2 separate regions of the Homo sapiens genome follow, and region 2 is linked to region 1. A link means that fine-mapping ties the variant in region 1 to the expression of a gene that starts in the linked region. Tissue or cell type: ileum. Region 1 holds a variant in brackets; the other region holds the start of a gene. All regions are shown on one strand. Distances are between the middles of the regions.

Evidence for each region. PIP is the estimated chance that this variant, and not a neighbour inherited with it, causes the effect.
Region 2: NVL starts here. The variant in region 1 is fine-mapped to the expression of NVL in ileum (GTEx, PIP above 0.99). The same link has a PIP of 0.9 or more in naive CD8 T cells and whole blood.

What each region holds. Positions count from the first base shown.
Region 1 is chr1:224,269,817-224,272,576 of GRCh38, forward strand. The region is part of intron 17 of NVL (nuclear VCP like); the gene reads right to left. Among named protein-coding and RNA genes, the nearest start is that of MIR320B2, 14 kb to the left of the region's middle. The variant G/A (reference allele first, on the strand shown) is at 1,707.
Region 2 is chr1:224,328,767-224,331,385 of GRCh38, forward strand. It overlaps NVL (nuclear VCP like), which reads right to left and starts at 1,406. Exons shown (of 23, transcript NM_002533.4): 1 at 1,305-1,406. The coding sequence starts at 1,361. RefSeq lists enhancers at 974-1,113, 1,164-1,213, 1,404-1,453, 1,474-1,623.

The sequences.
Region 1 (2,760 bases):
TCAGCTTACTGCAACCTCTGCCTTCTAGGCTCAAGCAATCCTCCTACCTCAGTCTCCCAAGTGGCTGGGACTACAGGTATGCACCACCACACCTGGCTAATTTTTCTCTCTTTTTCTTTCTTTTTTTTTTTTTTGTAGAGCCGGGATTTCACCATGTTGCCCTTGCTGGTCTTGAACTCCTGGACTCAAGCAATCTGCCCACCTCGGCTGCCCAAACTGCTGGGATTACAGGTATGAACTACCGCGCCCAGCTTACCCCACTGATTTCTCTAGAAAAAAAAAAATTGGTGCTCCTTATTATCACTCCTTGGTAACATAACACTAACAGAATCATAATCCATACTCAAAAATATAAGGAAGTAATGGGTAAAAAACATTTTTTCTACATAAGCAAGACAAACTCAGAGTCAATACAAGAATGACTGATAGATTTTGCTGCATTAAAGCCATAATATTCTGGCCGGGCATTGTGGCTCACACCTGTAATCCCAGCACTTTGGGAGGCCGAGACATGTGAATCACCTGAGGTCAGGAGTGCAAGACCAGCCTGGCCAACATGGCAAAACCCCATCTCTACTAAAAATACAAAAAATTAGCTGGGCATGGTGGTGGGAACCTGTAATCCCAGCTGCACGGGAAGCTGAGGCAGAAGAATTGCTTGAACCCGGGAGGCGGAGGCTGCAGTAAGCCAAGATTGCATCATTGCATTCCAGCCTGGGCGACGGAGTGAGACTCTCAAAACAGAAAACAAACAAACAAACAAACAAAACCTATAATATTCTATATAATAAAATTAAATATAAGTCATAAGACTGGGAAAAATAGTGTCAACACATAATTAAATAAAAGACTACTTTCCATCATAGAGTACCAATTAATGTAAAAAAAGAAAAAGACAGCAATAGCAAAAGGGTTGAAAGATAAGATCAAATAATTTCAAATCACTGGAGATAGTCAACCTCATGGTAATCAGGGACATGTATACTAAAATGTAATATGATTTGCCAATAAAACTGCCAAAAAATAAAAAGACAGGTATAATCCATTGTTGATAGGAAATGGTTATTTTCACACACTGTTGGTGGGCACATGTAACTGACAGTTTTTGTGAAGGATGATACAGCATTATTTTTCAAAATCTAATATATATCAATCTTCAACCCTGATTTTCACTTCCAAAAATCTATCTCATATAGTCCCATCACAGGTGCACAAAAATACGTGAAACAAGTTCAGCAGAGTTCTATTTACAACTGGAAACAATCTAAATGTCCAAAACAGGAGAATTATTATGTAAATTCTGCTGTATCCAGACTATTATACAATATCTATTTTTAAGTTATTACGTACATGAGAAAGTCATCAAGACAGAATGACCACATTTATATAAAAAATAGAAGCCTAGGTCCAGGCATGATGTAATCCCAGCACTTTGGGAGGCTGAGGCAGGAGGATCGCTTGAGGCCAGAAGTTCAATACAAGCCTGGGCAACACAGCAAGATCCCACCTCTAAAAACAAAAACTTAGCTGGGTGTGGTGGTGCACACCCGTACTACTAGCTACTCAGGCAGCTGAGGTGGGATCATTTCTTGAGCCCAGGAGCTCAAGGCAGCAGGCAGTGAGCTACAATCACACCACTGCACTCCAGCCTGGGAGACAGGGTAAGACCCTGTCTCAAACAACAGCAACAACAACAAAACAGAAGC[G/A]TAAAATATAAATTTTTTTATGTTTCTGGAAAAAATTCTAGAATGATGCATACTAAATGACAACTATTAGCAGTCTCGTAATAACCTCCAAAAAGAGTAATACGGAGGAGAATGGAAAGAAATTTACTCTCTTTATACTTGTGTTTTATTTGAATTTTTCACAAATGTGTATTCATGTATAACTAGTGCAATTAAAAAAGAATACATTTGCCAGGCGCGGTGGCTCACGCCTGTAATCTCAACACTTTAGGAGGCCGAGGCGGGCAGATCACGAGGTCAGGAGTTCGAGACCAGTCTGGCCAACATAGTGAAACCCCATCTCTACTAAAAATACACAAAAAATTAGCCAGGCGTGGTGGTGTGCGCCTGTAATCCCAGCTACTCGGGAGGCTGAGGCAGGAGAATCGCATGAACCCAGGAGGCAGAGGTTGCAGTGAGCCGAGATTGCGCCACTGCACTCCAGCCTGGGCAACAGAACGAGACTCTGTCTCAAAAAAAACAGAATGCATTCAAATTTAAAATGTTTTTAGAGGCCAGGCATGGTGGCTCATGCCTGTAATCCTAGCACTTTGGAAGGCTGAGGCAGGTGGATCACCTGAGGTTAGAAGTTCGAGACCAGCCTGGCCAACATGGTGAAACCCTGTCTCTACTAAAAAAAAAAAAATACAAAAAATCAGCTGGGCATGGTGGCACACACCTGTAGTCCCAGCTACTCAGGAGGCTGAGGCACAAGAATCGCTTGAACCCAGGAGGCAGAAGTTGCGAAGAGCTGAGATCGCGCCACTGCACTCCAGCTTGAGTGAGAGTGAGACTCTGTTTTAAAAAAAAAAAAATCAAATAAAAAGAAACAAAAAATAAAAATAAAATGTTTTTAGAATCTGCTTTAGGTGAAAATGTTAGAAAAGCAAACTATAGCTGGGCGTAGTGGCTCACATCTGTAATGCCAGCACTTTGGGAGGCCAAGGCGAGTGGATCACCTGAGGTCAGGAGTTCAAGACCAGCCTGGCCAAAGTGGTAAAACCCCGTCTCTACTAAAAATACAAAATTAGCCAGG
Region 2 (2,619 bases), 59 kb after region 1:
ACTAAGAAAGGGCAGATTTGAAGGAAGAAAAAAATCACAAATTCCACTTGGCCATTTTAATTTGGAGATATGCTGACTAGGCAGCTGGATATATCAATCTGTACTTCAAGATAAAATCTGGACTGGAGATATAAAGTTAGCAGTCATAAATATACAGAGGCCAGTGCAGCAGCTTGCACCGGTAATCCCAGCACTTTGGGAGGCTGAGGCCCGATCGCTTGAGCCCAGGAGTTAGAGACCAGCCAGAGTAACATAGTGGAACCCCGTCTCTACAAATAATAATAATAATAATAAATTAGCCAGGTGTGGTGGTGCACACCTGTAGTCCCAGCTACTGGGGAGGCTGAGGAGGGAGGATCACTTGAGTCAGGGAGGCCGAGGGTGCAGTGAGTTATGATTGTGCCCATAAACAGCCACTGCACTCTAGCCTGGGCAACAGAGCGAGACTATGTCTCAGAAAAATAAAAATAAAATGAAATAAATACATAGATAATAGAGTATGTAGATACTACTCAAAGGTTATTACACTAAATGAGATCACATAGGAAGTATGGATAGATAAGAAAGGTGTATGAGGAAAGAGGAGGAAGGGGAGGTAAGAGAACAGTGGCACAGAGCACTTCCAACATTTACAAGTTGGTAGGAAAAGATGGGTCCGAAAAGGAGATTGTTTAGGGGCTGGTGAAGTGAAAGAAAAACAAGGAGAATGTGTAGCTCACAAATTCCTAAGTGAAGAAAATTCTCTCCCACCTTTTAACTCAGACTGCTTGCTTACATTCTGAGGTATTTGCCACACACTGCTTTTTACTGATGGTCATGAAAATGAGAAAACCGTAGGCAAAGTGCCTGTTACTGTTGCCAGACCCATGTTATCTCGTTTTAGTGTGTAAGTTCCTTGAGAACGGAAATTAACATATTATTTATGCCACCCCTTCTCAAGGACCTCTTACAATGCGAGCGTTTGAAGACCATTCCTGTGCTAACTTCACAAGCCAAAGAGGTTAAAATTCAAAGGCTACCTCCACTCTACTGAATGATCTGCGCTGAAGACGACCAGACAACTTGGGCAGCCCTACCAAGCTGCACCCTCCCACCATCCCCGGCTTCTCCCTGAGACTCCGCACCAACGTGGGTAGGGAAGGCCCCGGCAGCACCAACTAAGGAGAAACAGACGCACGCCCAGACCCAGACTGGGGAAAGAAGACTAGTTGAGTTCCACCTGGATGCCACCCGACAAAAGGGGAGTGGCACCCTGGGGCAGCGATCGGGGCCCTTGGCGAGGCCAAGCGGTGCAGAATACACACCTGGATGACTCGCTGCTTGAGTTTATTATCCACGAACCCTGCAGGTCTGGGCTTCATCGCGTCGGTCTTCCAAGCCACAGCTCGGACCGCCAGCTCCTAGTCAACCGGGGGCCTCGTAGGGGTTGCCCGCCGCGATCGCCGGGCCAGTTGCACCTGAAATGCGCCCCTCCTGGGGCCTAGCCCGCGCCGTTTCCGTCAGAATAAAAGTAATGCGAATGAAGGGGAAAAAATTCCGAGGAGAGGGAGAAGACTTGAAAACCTCAGGGAGTTTCTAGGGGCCTTATTTTGCAGGCCTGCCCAGTGGACCCTGGAAGATTAGGACCCCTTTGAACGCGCTCAACTTTATTGGTTCCCCGCCGGGCGAACCAGGTGGGAGGAAGTTCCTACCCCGGCGCGGTGTGCGGAGACGCTGTCAACGGCGTCCTCTGGAAAACTTGGTTTGCTTTCCTCAGGCGTTCCAGCCACACCTCATTCTGATACAAAGCTAGTCTTCGCAAAACCAGCCACGGTAGATACTTGGAGTGATAAAATCAGGGTAAAAACACACCACCAGCCGCTGCTTGCTTTCCCACGTAGTTATCTTACATTTTAGAGGCCCGACAAAAGGGCTAGGTGAAAAAGAAAAGGAAGGACGGATTTATCCAGATAACTAAGTCATTTGTTACTTTTAGAACTCGTTTGACTTACGCTGTTATCATCGGCAGGTAATTTGTTGAATATATCCAGTGCAGGACTCCTTGGCCCAGAATTTTATCAAACGTTTGTATTTGCCCCAAGAAGTTTATCCTGCACTTAGGGAGACACAAAGGGACAGTTACCAAGCATTAAAAAAAAAATGCTGGCTTTAGTTTCTGTCTTCTTGTTTATTTCAACCGTGTTTTGAGTATTCTTATTTCAGGTCCTCCTTGGCTTATGACAAGGTTAAGTGCAGTGTATTAAGGGGCAGAGGGGAGAGAAAATGGAATTAAGAGAAGGGCGTGAGGCCGGGCACGGTGGCTCACACCTGTAATCCCAGCACTTTGGGAGGCCGAGGCGGGCAGATCACTTGAGGTCAGGAGTTCACGACCAGCCTGGCCAACATGGTGAAACCTTGTCTCTACTAAAAATATAAAAATTAGCACTGAATTAAGTATTAGATTTCCCACTCAAAATATTGATCCGTTTGGTTGCAACTTCATTTCCTACTTCTTCACTATGTGTAGTTTTATTTTTTATTTTTTTAGTTGTAAAATATAAGAACATTCACCATCTTAAACATTTTAAAGTGTGCAGTTTAGTGATAATACATTCATAATATGCAACCATCACTGCCATC